Linked DNA regions of Homo sapiens: region 2 is linked to region 1. Evidence: fine-mapped expression QTL. Tissue or cell type: cerebral cortex. Region 1 holds a variant in brackets; the other region holds the start of a gene. All regions are shown on one strand. Distances are from middle to middle.

Region 1 (2,684 bases):
TTCAAAACCTTCTATAATTTACTCACTTTTCCATCCATTCATGACATATCAGTGGGTGCCCATTTTGTGGCTCTAGGAGAAAAGATGTCACAGGCTCCTGTGGTTGTACTTTGGGGAAAGATGAAGCCATGACTCTTTATTACTGTCATACTCAAAGCACTTAGGATAATGTGTGGGAACAGAGGAGACATCCAAAAAACATTTATATGAATTAAGAATTTTATTTTAGAAGTGCGGACGACATGTTGACTTATCAGCTATGCCTTCAAAAAGCCTGCACTTCACCACTTGCCCCAGATGGCTGTTTCACCTGTTCTGCTTTTCCAGGAAGGTGTGTAAATGGCATGGCAGGAGGTGAAGCTCACCTGTCTGCAGTAGCCATCCTGGGACTGGGGCGAGGTGTTTTACAATGTGACGCCCTGCTCGCACACGGGTGGTGTTCTAGTGCAGTGGTCCCCAACCCTTCTAGCACCAGGGACCAGTTTTGTGGAAGACACTTTTTCCATGGAATGGGGTTGAGGGGGTGGTTTGGGGATGATTCAAGCTTATTACATTTATTATGCACTTTATTTCTATTATTATTACGTTGTAATATATAATGAAATAATTATACAACTCATAATATGTAGAATCAGCGGGAGCCCTGAGCTTGTTTTCCTGTAACTAGACGGTCCCATCTGGGGGTGATGGGAAGCAGTGACAGATCACCAGGCCTTAGGTTCTCGTAAGGAACATGCAACCTAGATCCCTCGCATGCACAGTTCACATTAGGGTTCAAACTCTTGTGAGAATCTAGTGCTTCTTCTGATCTGACAGGAGTTGGAGCTCTGGCAGTAATGTAAGCAATGAGGAGTGGCTGTAAATACAGATGAAGCTTCACTCACCTCCTGCTGTGTGGCCCAGTTCCTAACAGGCCACGGACAGGTATCGGTCTGTGGCCCGGGGGTTTGGGACCCCTGTTCTAGTGGATTGCACGCTTGCGTGCCAGGAGGCGGGAAAATTAACTCTTCTTATGTTTATGTAAATCCCCATAGTCCCGAGAATTAGACTGGGGGTCATCCAAGTAGAAGAGACGCTAGGGACGCAAAACCTTCTGCTACACTCCTCAAGCCCACCTCCACTGACCTCACGGATGTTTATTTCTGCCCCACCATGATCAATATTTGCTTTGAATCCCCGCAGCAACTTACATGAAATCTGGGCTCTTCACATCCTGGCACAGGCTCTCTCTCTCTCTCATGTGCCTGATAAGTCCTATACCTCCAGTGACATTTTAAACTTCCCCAAGGCAGAATCTGCTATTTTCATGCTTTTACGTCTTTTGTCTACAAAGGATACTTTGAAAAGATCAAGAATTTAATAAACTTTCATTAAATAAGTGAACACATCCAGAAGAAAAATTTATAGTGAGTGTTTTTTTT[G/TG]TTTGTTTGTTTTGCTGGACAAATCTTGGTCCCTGGTTAAGGAAATTCCATTTGTACGAGACTATAAATGTGTTTTTAGTCCCTTAATGTTTTTTATTAGATGTCTTTATGTCTTAGATACTGCAAATAAGTATGCTGTGCTGTGATAGATATCTGGCCCTCAACATCAGACTTCTGATTGTACCACATACTCCCTCTACATGTTCATGTTTTTGGTATATAATTCTGACAAGGCATCTCAAAGGAAACTCACCAGCCACCAGGCAGAGGGGCACCTGGCAGCAGGGCCGCTGTTACCTGGCGTGCCATACGTCAGTGGTTACTTCCTGGGATGCACTGCGTTGCCGGTGCTGTGTGAGGGTGAACTTCCATCTTTTATTTGTTTCCCTAATCATGTGCTTTACGTGTCTTCTGAAGGATGTCCTCTGCTACCATCTGAGAAACAAAGGCATTGTGTAGGCAGCAGACTAATGGATGCTGACCGGGCCATGCAATTAAAGACCCCAGAAATCATGTAATCTCCCGGTGGATCTCAGCTCCCTCCACACCAGGAGGGGCTCCTGCGGCTATTGGTCGGTCCAGAAGGACTGCTGCCAAAGGCCTGATCTTCTGACTGTCAACAGCTGGCTTGCTTGCAGAAGAAGTGGTGTAATGCCAGTGAAGGCAAACACAAAGCTGCAATTTTAACCAACTGAGAAATGGAGGTGGAATCCCACAGTATGCCTCTCTTCTGCCTCTCTCCTTCCTCTGAAGGTTGTTCTTTCATTCGCTTGTTTCATTTGTCTTTCACTGCCCAAGACGGCACCTGACACTTAGCAGGCTCGTAATTAATGTTTCTTGAGTGGCTGGGTGGCTGAATGTGTGGATGGCTGGGTGGGTGGACAGATATGTACACAGATACTATACTTATGAAATAGTAATAATCACAAATTGAGTAGGACATGGTATCATGTAATATATATCAGTATAACTATAAAACTATCAATATAATTATTGTAATTATTTTGAGGCATTCATAAAGCTATGATCAAAATCCCTGTGTAGGCTTGGCGTGATGGCTCATGCCTATAATCCCAGCACTTTGGAAAACCGAGGGTGTTGGATCACTTGAGGTCAGGAGTTGGAGGTCAGCCTCGCCAACATGGTGAAACCCCATCTCTACTAAAAATACAAAAATTAGCTGAGCATGGTGGTATGTGCCTGTAGTCCTAGCTACTCAGGAGGCTGAGGCAAGAGAATTGCTTGAACCCAGGAGGCGGAGGT
Region 2 (2,684 bases), 360 kb after region 1:
ATTAAGAGAGGGGCATGAATTATTATACAAATTCTGCTTTGGACAAGTTAAGGCTGAGGTATCTATTTAAACATTCAGTAGGCTGAAGGATCATTCAGTCCTAATTGTTTACTAAACAAATAATAAGTACCTATATTGCCAGGCACTACGGTAGGACCTAGTCTGAAGAAAGGAACACAGTTCTATGAGACTATGAAACCAAAGATTTACCCACGACTTGGTCAGCTGCCCCAGGAGCCAGAAAATACAGCCTAGCTGAGATCTGAAGAAGGAAGGGAAAACTGCAGGATAAAGAAGAGCATTTGAAAAGGCTTCTACGGTAGAACGCGGCAAGAGCCTTCAAGAAACTGAGGGCCCAAGTGAGTGCCGCCCGCAGAGTGAAGAGGAGGACAGCTGCTGCCCCGAGGGGAGAGGGCCCCCTCTGCGAGCCCGGGGTGGCCGATTCAGGATCTGAGGCTTCAGCCTGAGAACTAAAGAGGACGAGAAGAACACACCTGTTGTGGCGGGCTTTTTCGGGGAGGACGCGGGTTGGGAGATTAACTGGACCGGACTAGACCTTTAAAAAATAACTACTATGGCTGCAGTGTGTTAAAGACCGAGGAGAAACCTGAGAAAGAACTTATCTCCAGTTTCTCCTCACAGACCCTCAGGGTCAGGGAAGACCCTACACTATTTTTACACAGCCTGGGCTTGCCAAAAAGTTTTTCTCAGGTATAAACCAACTAGGGGAGCGTGTCCTTCTCACCTCGTCAATGACCTCGTCCTCTTCATCCTTTTCCTTGTCACTGTCATCATCGTCTTCATCCTCATTTTCGACTTCTTTTTCCTCTTCCTCGTCGCGCTGGACTGGGGGATCCGGCGGCTGCGGAACCCCACTTTCCACGGCACGCCGCTTAGACCTGGACGCCATGTTGCCGCTCACACTGCGCCTGCGCAGCTTCCCCTTGCCTGACCTTCCGGACCAGCCCATAGTAGCCAAGGGGGTGAGGAACTACGAAGAAGCTCGGCGCTGAGTGCACGTCAACCCCAATGCCCCTGCTGGATTCCGCAGCCATGACCCCTTACAGTCACGTCCAGCTTGCGGTCCCATCTTGCTTTTTTCTTCCGCTTTCCACCCTCCATCACTCCTCCCAAAGCTTCCCCTCCCCTTCCCGTAGTGGTTCAACCCATCTAACCTCTGGCCTCATTCCGTGGCCTGGATGGCGGTGCGCATGCGCGAGCGCCTAGCTGCGCGCAGCCACCCACGCGACCCCAGTCTGAGGTGCGGGGTCCTGGGGCCCGGCGCGGGTGGCCGCCGCGGCCCCTCGGGCTGCGTGGGGAGGGGGCTTCCGCCCCTGTTGTCATTGCTCCTGCAGCCTTTTCGCTGGGACTGCGCGACACCGCCCCCCGACCGGGTGCCCGCTGTGTGCCAGGCCGGGTGCTGGGCACGGTCCCGCGAGGTAGGTGTCGCCGCCCGCTGTACCGGTACGGACGCCGAAGCCCGCGGGCGTGCAGGGGCCCGGCCCCGGGCGGTGTGTGACACAGTGGGGCCAGGGCCCCGAGGCTTCCGCGGACCTGGGCCTGCCCAGGCGGGGATGTCCGCTGCCGCTACCGCTGCGCCGGTGACGGAAGGCGCCTGCCCAGCCTACCCTCGCCGAGCTTCTGGAGCGCATTTCTTGACCTAAAAGTTTTTTTAAAGCCGGCACCGCAGTTAAAAATGCTTCGGCGGGGGGCCGGGCCCGGTGTCTCGCGCCTGTAATCCCAGCACTTAGGGAGGTCAAAGCGGGTGGATCACCAGAGGTCAGGAGTTCGAGACCAGCCTGGCCAACATGGCAAAACCTCATCTCTGCTAAAAGTACAAAAATTAGCCGGGCGTGGTGGCGGACACCTGTAATCCCAGCACTTTGGGAGGCCGAGATGGGTGGATCACTTGAGGTCAGGAGTTCGAGACCAGCCTGCCCAACATGGCGAAATCCCATCTCTACTAAAAATACAAAAACTAGCCAGGTGTGGTGGTGCGCGCCTGTAGTCCCAGCTACTCAGGAGGCTAAGGCAGGAGAATCGCATGCCCCCAGGAGACGGAGGTTGCAGTGAGCCGAGATCGCGCCACCGCACTCCACACTCCAGCCTGGGCGACAGAGGTAGACCCTATCTAAAAAAAAAAAAAAATGCTTCGGGGCCAGTGGGGTAGTCTAGGTTAAAGACCCGAGCCTATTTGGAGAGAAGAGTGGAGGGGACTGCGGCCAACTGCAGAGCGAGCGCCAGCCCCTGTGGCAGGTGGGGATGCAGCCTGGGGCAGCCAGGTCTTCCCATTGCGAGAGAAACAGGGTTCATCAGCTTTCTAGGAATAAGATCTGCGGTTCTCAATTGATTTTTCTCTGTAAAATGAGGGGGGTGGGTTGGATATGTTTGATTCTAGGAATGGTGTGAGCTGCGCTAATAGGCTGCTTCTGTTTAAGCAGGGTAACATCTGATAAATCAGTGATCCTTCATCAGTACGAGATGGCGTGCCCTAAAGGTCCCCAGGAGCCCAGATTGCCCATAATCGTGTTCTGTGATTTCGGTCTTTCCTGGGAGTCTCTTGTCTACCCAGCCATGTCATGGATATTAAAGTAATACTTACACATCAGCGCTCCACATCTGATGGGGCAGCTTGAAATGGCCTCTTTGGGTCGCACAACTGCAAAAACATGTTCCTGTAATGG

Evidence for each region. PIP is the estimated chance that this variant, and not a neighbour inherited with it, causes the effect.
Region 2: UROS starts here. The variant in region 1 is fine-mapped to the expression of UROS in cerebral cortex (GTEx, PIP 0.97).

The regions. Positions count from the first base shown.
Region 1 is chr10:126,181,152-126,183,835 of GRCh38, reverse strand. The region is part of intron 3 of ADAM12 (ADAM metallopeptidase domain 12); the gene reads left to right. Among named protein-coding and RNA genes, the nearest start is that of ADAM12, 210 kb to the left of the region's middle. The variant G/TG (reference allele first, on the strand shown) is at 1,422.
Region 2 is chr10:125,821,784-125,824,467 of GRCh38, reverse strand. UROS (uroporphyrinogen III synthase) reads left to right here and starts at 1,210. Exons shown (of 10, transcript NM_000375.3): 1 at 1,210-1,439. It overlaps BCCIP (BRCA2 and CDKN1A interacting protein), which reads right to left and starts at 922. Exons shown (of 7, transcript NM_078468.3): 1 at 746-922. The coding sequence starts at 910. RefSeq lists silencers at 158-377, 1,134-1,563 and enhancers at 854-1,053, 597-1,282.